2 separate regions of the Homo sapiens genome follow, and region 1 is linked to region 2. The links come from fine-mapping of genetic effects on gene expression. A gene starts in region 2. The other region holds a variant in brackets. All regions are shown on one strand. Distances are between the middles of the regions.

Region 1 (5,392 bases), 59 kb before region 2:
GTGCAGAAGCTCTTTAGTTTAATTAGATCCCATTTGTCAATTTTGACTTTTGTTGCCATTGCTTTTGGTGTTGTAGTCATGAAGTCCTTGCCCATGCCTATGTCCTGTATGGTATTGCCTAGGTTTTCTTCTGGGGTTTTTATGGTTTTAGGTCTAACATTTAAGTCTTTAATTCATCTTGAATTAATTTTTGTTCTGCCCTCTCTTACCACTCCTATTCAACATAATGTTGGAAGTTCTGGCCAGGGAAATCAGGCAGGAGAAAGAAATAAAGGGTATTCAATTAGGAAAAGAGGAAGTCAAATCGTCTCTGTTTGCAGAAGACATGATTGCATATTTAGAAAACCCAAACACTTCAGCCCAAAATCTCCTTAAGCTGATAAGCAACTTAAGCAGTCTCAGGATACAAAATCAATGTGCAAAAATCACAAGCATTCCTGTACACCAGTAACAGACAGAGAGCCAAATCATGAGTGAACTCCCATTCACAATTGCTTCAAAGAGAATAAAATACCTAGGAATCCAACTTACAAGGGATGTGAAGCACCTCTTCAAGGAGAACTGCAAACCACTGCTTAATGAAATAAAAGAGGATACAAACAAATGGAAGAACATTCCATGCTCATGGGTAGGAAGAATCAATATCGTGAAAATGGCCATACTGCCCAAGGTAATTTATAGATTCAATGCCATCCCCATCAAGCTACTGATGACTTTCTTCACATAATTGGAAAAAACTACTTTAAAGTTCATATGGAACCAGAAAAGAGCCCGCATTGCCAAGCCAATCCTAAGTCAAAAGAACAAAGCTGGAGGCATCACGCTACCTGACTTCAAACTATACTTCAAGGCTACAGTAACCAAAACAGCATGGTACTGGTACCAAAATAGAGATATAGACCAATGGAACAGAACAGAGCCCTCAGAAATAATACCACACATCTACAACCATCTGATCTTTGACAAACCTGACGAAAACAAGAAATGGAGAAAGGATTCCCTGTTTAATAAATGGTGCTAGGAAAACTGGCTAGCCATATGTAGAAAGCTGAAATGGGATTCAACTTCTTCCTAGTTTAGTCTTGGGAGGGTGTGTGTGTCCAGGAATTTATCCATTTCTTCTAGATTTTCTAGTTTATTTGCACAGAGGTGTTTATAGTATTCTCTGATGGTAGTTTGTATTTCTGTGGGATCAGTGATGATATCCTCTTTATCATTTTTTATTGTGTCTATTTGATTCTTCTCTCTTTTCTTCTTTGTTAGTCTGGCCAGCGGTCTATCTATTTTGTTAATCTGTCCAAAAAACCAGCTCCTGGATTTACTGATTCTTTGAAGGGTTTTTCGTGTCTCTATCTCCTTCAGTTACACTCTGATCTTAGTTATTTGTTGTTTTCTGCTAGCATTTGAATTTGTTTGCTCCTGTTTCTCTAGTTCTTTTAATTGTGATGTTAGGGTGTCGATTTTAGATCCTTCCTGCTTTCTCCTGTGGGCATTTAGTGCTATAAATTTTCCTCTAAACACTGTTTTAGCCGTGTTTCAGAGATTCTGGTACACTGTGTCTTTGTTCTAATTGGTTTCAAAGAACTTATGTACTTCTGCCTTAATTTCATTATTTATCCAGTAGCCATTCAGGAGCAGGTTGTTCAGTTTCCATGTAGTTGTGGGGTTTTGAGTGAGTTTCTTAATCCCGAGTTCTAACTTGATTGCATTGTGGTCTGAGAGACTGTTTGTTTTGATTTCCATTCTTTTGCGTTTACTGAGGAGTGTTTTATTTCCAATTATGTGGTCAATTTTAGAATAAGTGTGACGTGATGCTGAGAAGAATGTGTATTCTGTTAATTTGGGGTGGAAAGTTCTGCAGATGTCTATTAGGTCTGCTTGGTCCAGAGCTGAGTTCAAGTCCTGAATATCCTTGTTAATTTTCTGTCTTGTTGATCTGTCTAATATTGACAGTGGGGTGTTAAATTCTCCCACTATTATTGTGTGGGAGTCTAAACCTCTTTGTAGGTCTCTAAGAACTTGCTTTATGAATCTGGGTGCTCCAGTATTGGGTGCATATATAGTTAGAATAGTTAGCTCTTCTTGTTGCATTGATCCCTTTAACATTATGTAAAGCCCTTCTTTGTCTTCTTTTTCTTTTTGATCTTTGTTGGTTTAAAGTCTGTTTTATCAGAGACCAGAATTGCAACCCCAGCTTTTTTTTTTTTTTTTTTTTTTTTTTTGCTTTCCATTTGCTTGGTAAATATTCCTCCATCCCTTTATTTTGAGTTTATGTGTCTTTGCATGTGAGATGGGTCTCCTGAATACAGCACACCGATGGGTCTTGACTCTATCCAATTTGCCAGTCTGTGTCTTTTAATTGGGGCATTTTTCCCATTTACATTTAAGGTTAATATTGTTATGTGTGCATTTGATCCTGTCATAATGATGCTAGCTGGTTATTTTGCCCATTAGTTGATGCAGTTTCTTCATAGTTTCAATGGTCTTCACAATTTGATATGTTTTTGTAGTGACTGGTACTGGTTTTTCCTTTTCATATTTAGTGCTTCCTTCAGGAGCTCTTGTAGGGCAGGCCTAGTGGTGACAA[A/G]ATCTCTCAGCATTTGCTTTTCTGTAATGAATTTTATTTCTCCTTTGCTTATGAAGCTTAGATTGACTGAATATGAAATTCTGGGTTGAAAATTCTTTTAAGAATGTTGAATATTGGGCCCCACTCTTTACTGGCTTGTAGAGTTTCTGCAGAGAGATGCACTGTTGATCTGATGGGCTTCTCTTTTTGGGTAATCCGACCTTTCTCTCTGGCTGCCCTCAACATTTTTTCCTTCATTTCAGCCTTGGTGAATCTGACGATTATGTGTATTGAGTTTGCTTTTCTCAAGGAGTACCTTTGTGGTGTTCTCTGTGTTTCCTGAATTTGAATGTTGACCTGTCTTGCCAGGTTGGGGAAGTTCTCCTGGGTAATATCCTGAAGAGTGTTTCCCAACTTGGTTCCATTCTCCCCTTCACTTTTAGGTACACGAATCAAACGTACGTTTGGTCTTTTCACGTAGTCCCATATTTCTTAGAGTCTGTTCATTTCTTTTCATTCTTTTTTCTCTAATCTTGCCTTCACACTTTATTTCATTAAGTTGATCTTCAATCTCTGATATCGTTTCTTCCACTTGATTGATTTGGCTATTGATACTTGTGACCAATCTTTTTTTGTTTTCTTAAAGCGTTGAGAAAGCGATTCTTTCATCCAGTTTTCCATTTTATTTTATGAAGGAAGTTTGTCAGGTTTTACTGACAATTAACATAGTACTAATCAAAATTATAATTATTGCAACTTTATATGTTATAATTTGATATTATAAAATATTAAGTATATTAACAGCTTTTCAATGCATGAAATCAATCTGCAGACATATATATTTTCAAACGGATAAACCATGCAGGTAAAATGAAATGTGATCCACTTTTTTTTTCATGTCTAACCTTATTTCTTTCCTTTATCTTAAAGGGAAACCTCTCACAACTATTTCTTATCTATTTTGTCACAGATTTCCCTTCTTTGATTCATGCTTCCACCTACTGCAATACGGTTTATAGTGATTAATTCTACCAATGCAGCTCTCACTAAGATCTCCACTGCCATTTATTTTTCTGATGTAGTGGACAGTTTTAATCCATATTTCCCCCAAGTCTATTGATTCTTCTTCTAAATACATTTATTTTCAAGACACACATTTATCACCATTAAGTCTTTCCTTCACTAATGTACAGTTTTCCACCCTTGCTTCCTTTGTGTCTCTTATATCCCCTCTCTTTAAAGGTGGAAGGTCCTCAGAATCAATTTTAGGTTCTTTTTTCCTTTACTTTTCTTTTTCCTCTCCACATGACTGCCTCTATTTTTGGGCTTTCCATTGCCAGTTATGAACCTTCAGGCATTGTATTTCTTGAAAATTGCAAATTCATATATCTGACTGGAAATACACATTTGCAATTGTATGTTTAGAAGTCAATTTATTGAGGATATTGCTTCTTTTATTTTTATTTCTGGAATGCCTAAATCCATCCTCTTCTATGAGAAATTCATTGTTTTTTTTTTCCTATCTCACATTATAGCATTTAACATAACTGATATCAATTGAGAACGATTATTGTTTATAAGTTTCTTTCCTCACAAAAATCAAAGGTACATGAGAACAGGAAATGTATTTGTTTTTTCAATTTTATATCCTGAAGGCAACATACAACATACAATCTGGTATAGAAAAATCTATTTTGACTTATAACCAATAATAGGTAACTGAATCGTATAATCTATTTTTTAATCAGGTTAAATAATCAGGCTTGGAGTTTCATTTTAAAGAATAAACAAATACAAGGAGTTTTCCATAGTAAAAATTTAATGAAAAAAGCAAAGTAATATATTGACTAAATATAAAGAACATGTATTGTTATATTAACCACAAAGTAAAAATACATGATACATGAAAAGAAGATTTTAAATAGTATAAATAGTTAAATAATTATTTAGACAAATAGATAAACAGATCCATCAGCATGATCATCCGTAAGGAACTAGTGCCTGTACAGCTGAACATGATGCTGCTTAACATTCCTGAAAACATTTTAAAATTTTGATTCAACTCATGTCATGGATATAGCAAAAATGAGAAATGGCAGAATTCATGAACGTGTGAGATGATGTATTAATCATGGAAATGTTTCTCATTTCCATGTTGAACCAGTTTTCATTCCTTCCTCCTTAATCTTTCCTGCAAGTTCGTTCATAAAGAGAAGGATCTCATGATTTCTGCTCTGACAGCCTCCCAGGAACAAGGGCTATACTTCTTCTTTGTCAGATAAAGAGTGATTCTTTGAAAGTATTTTCTCACAGCCAGGATGGAGTCCACATTCCTCAGGGGAGTCTCTTCCACTCCAACCTTCTACATCACACAGGCTTCCAGGTCATTCAGCTGCTGGTAAAGTTCAGTGTAGAATTTGTCTAAAAGGGTCGCATCCCAAGTATCAGATGAGTCCTTTGTGCTGAAGAGGTTGAAGGTCTGCTGCATCATCTCATGGAAAAGGAAGATAGCTTGAACCTTCTGGAAGTGGTTGCCATGAAACACCTGATGATGGAAAATCAAAGTCATGTCTGTCCTTCAAGTAAGAAAAAGGAGAGATTCTCCTCATTTGTGTCAGGAGTATGAAGGCCCTCCTGTTACCCACGCTGTGGGCCTGAGGCAGATCACAGCCCAGAGGCAGATGGACTTGCAGCTGAGCACCATCATAGCCATCAGTAAACTAAAGGGCAAGTCCATTGGGGATGTTTCAGATGCTACTGGGCTGGCTGAGAGAGTGACTCTGAACTCTGGATTTTAGGTTATCTGAAGACCTTATTTTGTACGTA
Region 2 (5,379 bases):
ATATTTTTATTATTTCTGTCTACGTAAGAAACTTCAAATATTCTGAATGCAACCACACAATCGAGTAAGTTGACAGACATGACAAAAACTACGAAAAGAGGGAGGTAACTAGTATTAATACTTGGCAACCTTTCGTTATTTTTAGTTTAGAGCGGCCTCCCTCTGACATTTTGGAGTCAAAGATGAAAACTCAACTTTGAAGCATAATGGACATAATTACACATTTACCACAGTCATCTACAATTTTATATAACATCACAAAAAGACATCTAAACATTTTTCTACGTCTTTTTTTCATTTGTTAAAACAGCTATGTTAAATACATTTTCAGAATGCATTTGTTAGCCACTTGATAAACATACTAAAAGCCATACAAGACGAATAACATCAGTTACCTTTATATCTAATAACTGTACCAATCACTGTAAGAAGATACAACTGAAGGGGAAGTATTAGATCACCCATGACGTACTGCAAAGGTGTTACACCTTAGACCTAAGAATGATCTGAAGGTGCTGAAAGAGGTGATTCTCTAGAAGGTGACCCAGGGTTTTCTTCAGGTGGAAAAACTGTGAGTGTACAGGCTCGAATGCCACCAAGTGACTCTGGAAGATCAAAAACTTTATGCCACTCATCTTTTTCTGGGTCATATTTCTGGACAATTTCTACCATACAACGATTATTCCAAGAATATCCACCAACAACATAGATTTTATTTTCAAAGACGGCAACTCCAACATCACTTTGGCCTCTTAACATGGCGGCAATTGGGGTCCACTGGTCAAGGGTTGGTGAATAGTATTCACAGCTTAGAACATCATCATAATCACTTGTTCCTCTGAAGTGATTGCCACCAATGACATAGAGCTTATCTCCAACTGTACACATGCAATGCAGACCTCTGACTGTAGTCATTGGAGCCTTTTGCATCCATTTATCTGTATCTGGGTCAAAACACATGAGCTCATTTTGGAAAGTGTCATGGGTAATTCCTCCTGAAATATACATTAAGCCTCCATATACTGTTCCAGCATGACCATAGTGGGGTTCACTCATTTTTGCAACATAGCTCCACTCATTCATTCTTGGGTTGTAACATTCTACTGTGGCCAGTTCACCAGCTGCACTGCGCCCACCAACTGCATACAAATGTCCTTTGAGGGCACTCAAGTGAAAGAATGTGCGCTTTTCATTTAATGATGCAACCTGCATCCATTTATTATACCGAGGATCAAATCTGAAAACTGTATCAACAGCAGTTTTTCCTTTTGTATCATAATTACTCTGACCACCAACTACATAAAGAAAGTTTCCAATGACAGCAATACCATGCTGGTAACGGGGAGCATCCATTGGGGCTAAAGATCTCCATTCTTGTGCCCTTTCATCATACATCCGTAATTCTTTACTGACAACCAGCTGCTGCCTCAAAACTCCTCCTAATGTAACCAAGTGAGTGGAGTCAGATCGAATGGCAGTTCTATCTGACTGCATCACTGGCTGCATATATGGCATCATTTGGTAATTGCTAGCTTCCAAAAGCAAATTCACGCAGGTATTGTCTGTTCTCATGAAATCTACTGTCTGCACGTAATTGATGAGATCCTGTGGTGTCATCAGTGGAAATCGAATATTCTTCATTAACTTTGCAGCATAATCCATCCGAGGGTCTTCCAACCTTAGCCAGCGACAGGCTGCCTTAAAGAGTTCAAGTTCGGTACAGTGCTTAAGACTATTACTGGAAAGCACAAATGCAAGTCGTTCAAAAGGGAGTTTTAGAAACTCCCCAGTACTCAATAAAGCAGGAAAGTTCTTCAGGATGAAATTATTAACATATTTATCCACTTCTATAAGATTGTAGGTGTTAGCAATTCGTCCAACCTCAACACAGTTATCCAAAGAGACTCCTGATATAAGAAATACTTTACAGAAATCCAAAACGGGTAATATTTGTAAAAAGCTAGCAGCTTCAAGTGTGTCCTGAAGATTGTCCATATTAAGAGAAAGTTTTGCAGTATAAATAAAATCAATGATTTTCTTCAGACCAACCTTGTTCACCCCATGAAGCTTAATGCACATCAAATCTTGTTCTTTCATTCCACCTGTGAACATGGCTTTGAAATAATCACTAGCAGACGCCATCATAGCTCTGTGAACAGGGAAGATTTCATCTCCATCACCTGGTACCAGGGTCACATCACAAAGCAATCCTTCTATTCTAAGCTGATCAAAGCCTTGCAATACCACCGAACTGTGAGTATTGCTGGTAAAAAAGCGTGTGGTTCCTGCCTTACAAGGCTGCAAATGGGCAGAGACGCCCATTTCGCCGTTACCAAGGGACACTTTCATGTGAAAGCTTTCCTCTTGCACAGAGATGCAAGCCGGATAAAGAAGTTATAACCGGAATGTTTTACAGGTAACGAGGTGTCCAGAAAGAACAGAAAGCTCGTTTCCTTATCAAGGGAAGGCAGTCACTGCGGCACCCCTCGGGCCACGCCAGTCAGTCATCCACTGAAAATCACCCTGTAGCAGGACCACAAAGGGCTGTGGACCTCAAATCTGATTATTAGACAGATGATTCATCACCTGAAGGCGGTTAAATGACCTGGTTCACCTCGTCCGGCCTGCGCTGCCGCTCCTTCAGCAGTTCCGCTTCGGGCAAGGAAGAGGCGCCGCCACGTACTGTGGCTCCACGGCCCGCTCGGCGGCGGGTCCGGACACCTCAGCGAACGGCCCGCTGCGCCCTCCGCTGTACCTAGAGTGTCGCAGCGGCCACCGGCCTGTCTTTGAGCAAGGGCCGGGAACACAGGCCTGGGCCTGGGCTTGGGCCTAGAATACCGGCCTAGCCCCAACACCGAGCCGCTCCTTCCGGAAAAGCCTAGTCCCAGGATACCACGGGGTGGGAGCGGCCTTAGCGGCTACTGCGGCTGCGCGGCCTCCAGACCTCGTCAGTCAGCGGGAGGGTGGGGGTGGGGAAGGGGGAGGAAGTACCCGGGAGGCGGGAGGGCGAGGGTTGGGGAAGCGGAGCTGTGTGGGGTGGGCGCCAGCCCGGCCTCTTAGAGCTGCCTTGTATGTGGGACCAAATAGGACAGAATGTGTGCAAGCAAGTGTGTTATGCTGCACGTTTGATATAAGTTTTTCGCATATCTGAGCTCTTACGTTCCCCAAATGCATAATTTTTCAAAGCTTTACGCTTCCTAGCTTCTGTTTTTTTGAATAACAGTGAAATGCGGCATTTGTATAAATTGAGAGGAAACCTGGATGCTTAATTTTTTTTTTCCTCTACAAAACAATAATTGTTATCCCACATTATGTAGTAGATACTTCAGTTACAATTTTGGTTCATATTTTCAAATTTGTTACAATTTCAAACGCAAAATATTTGTCTTTACTAGATTGTTACTTTATTATGTAAATGATATATTCTAAATTTTTGGCTTGAAATGCCTTTGTTTTCCACAATTTTAAAAATGGCTACATAATTTTCCAATAACTATACATACTATAGTTTCCTTTGCCCATTGGTTTGTTCCTGAATGTGTACCTTCTTATCCTCCATTGTTTTATAGACTCGGTAGTAAACTTATACAATCTGGTAGCAAAATTTTAGCCCTGTTATGGATAATATTTAGTAAAATACTGATCCAAGACAATATTTCCAAAATATTATCACCAACAATGTTTGTGTCTTTCCCTTCTTCTGACTTTTCCCTTTGTGAGTATTTTATTAACTTGCATTTCTTTAATTAGTGGTAAATTTAAATTTTGACATACAAATAAATGTATACTTTGACACAATTTCTTCCATTTTCCAAATTTTGAAGTTTCTGTCTTTTAAATCCTTCTAGTTCTTTATGCATATGCAAAGTAAGAATGTAGTCATGTTTTTCTTACACTCGCCTCGTTTTTATGTAAAAGATAGCATACCATGTACACTGTTCTGCATCTTTTTTTTTCACTTCAAGATCTTCCTGAATTAGTGTAGAGGGCTTATTTATATTTTTAAACAATTCTGTTGTTGCCTTCTGAGTTGTTACATCATAAGTTATTTAACCAGTGCCCTGTTGATGGGCAGTTCATCTGTTTTGAATGTTTTCTATTGTTTCCAAGGGATGGCAGCAAAATTCAGAAGGCTTAGACTACCACTGTCCTCCACAAGGTGCTCCAGCAGATTGTCACCTTATTCAACACAAGAGGTTGGTTGGAATGAAACTGGCCTGGAGAAATTATTCACTGAATTTTTATCAGCATTGGGAAGTCCTGGAGCCCTGCTTGTTGAATGAGTTAGGGGTGGAAGGGCTCTCTCAGGCCATGACAACTCCCTAATGCTGTGAAGAGCTACTTCCAAGGAATCAGTCTCTATCTGGAAAAGAAAGAAGAGAGCCTCTGTACATGGGAAGTTGGAGCAAGAAATCATGAGATCCTTCTTTTTTTCATCAAACTTGCAAGTAAGATTAATAGCTTAGGAACAGACTTGTGTCTTCATGAAATGATTACTATAGACACTCTTCATTATATTCCCATATGTTTAGTTATTTTAAAAGACTATCTTTTCTGCCTGCATAATGAAATGATTGAATCAAATTTGTCACAATACTTGTTGGTAATGTCAAGCAACTGTATGATAAAGCATCCAGTTCTTAGGGGCATTAGCTCACCATGGATGATATTATTAATTTACCCATGTACTTAATTATTGATTCTACTACATTTATTGTATTCAGTATTTTTGCTTGTATGAAATGTTCACTTTTAACACTGTGCTAATTACATTAAAAAGTGTTCACTTTATGTATATTTTGTTTGTTTGTTTTGTTTTGTTTTGTTTTGACGGAGTCTCGCTCTGTCACCCAGGCTGGAGTACAGTGGTGCGATCTCGGCTCACTGCAACCTCCGCCTCCCAGGGTCAAGCAATTCTCCTGCCTTAGCGTCCCGAGTAGCTGGGACTACAGGTGCGCGCCACCATGCCCAGCTAATTTTTTGTATTTTTAGTAGAGATAGAGTTTCACCATGCTGGCCAGTCTGCTCTCAAACTCCTGACCTTGTGATCCGCCTGCCTCAGCCTCCCAAAGTGCTGGGATTACAGGCGTGAGCCACCATGCCTGGCCCCTCACTTTATATTTTGAAAATTATTCTCTTTATTATTTCGAGTTTTACTTTCAGATCATTTTGCATTTGTTTATTTAAAAAAAACAAACACAAGGTCTTGCTCTGTCACTAAGCTGGAGTGCAGTGGCAGGTTCATAGCTCACTACAGCCTCAAACTCCTAGCCTCAACAATCCTCCCACCTCAGCCTCCCACACTGCTGGGATTACTGGCATGAGCCACCATACCTGGCCTTACTCAATAAATCAATGCCAAGGTTGGTTTTGCAACCT

The links.
Region 1: its variant is fine-mapped to the expression of KLHL9 in cerebellar hemisphere (GTEx, PIP 0.96).

What each region holds. Positions count from the first base shown.
Region 1 is chr9:21,273,317-21,278,708 of GRCh38, forward strand. The region is part of intron 2 of LOC107987053 (a long non-coding RNA gene); the gene reads left to right. It also overlaps the pseudogene IFNA22P. Among named protein-coding and RNA genes, the nearest start is that of IFNA5, 29 kb to the right of the region's middle. The variant A/G (reference allele first, on the strand shown) is at 2,588.
Region 2 is chr9:21,332,511-21,337,889 of GRCh38, forward strand. It overlaps KLHL9 (kelch like family member 9), which reads right to left and starts at 2,894. Exons shown (of 1, transcript NM_018847.4): 1 at 1-2,894. The coding sequence starts at 2,349. The coding sequence ends at 496. LOC107987053 (a long non-coding RNA gene) reads left to right here. Exons shown (of 3, transcript XR_001746634.2): 3 at 4,111-4,791. RefSeq lists enhancers at 2,324-2,373, 2,564-2,873 and a silencer at 2,914-3,083.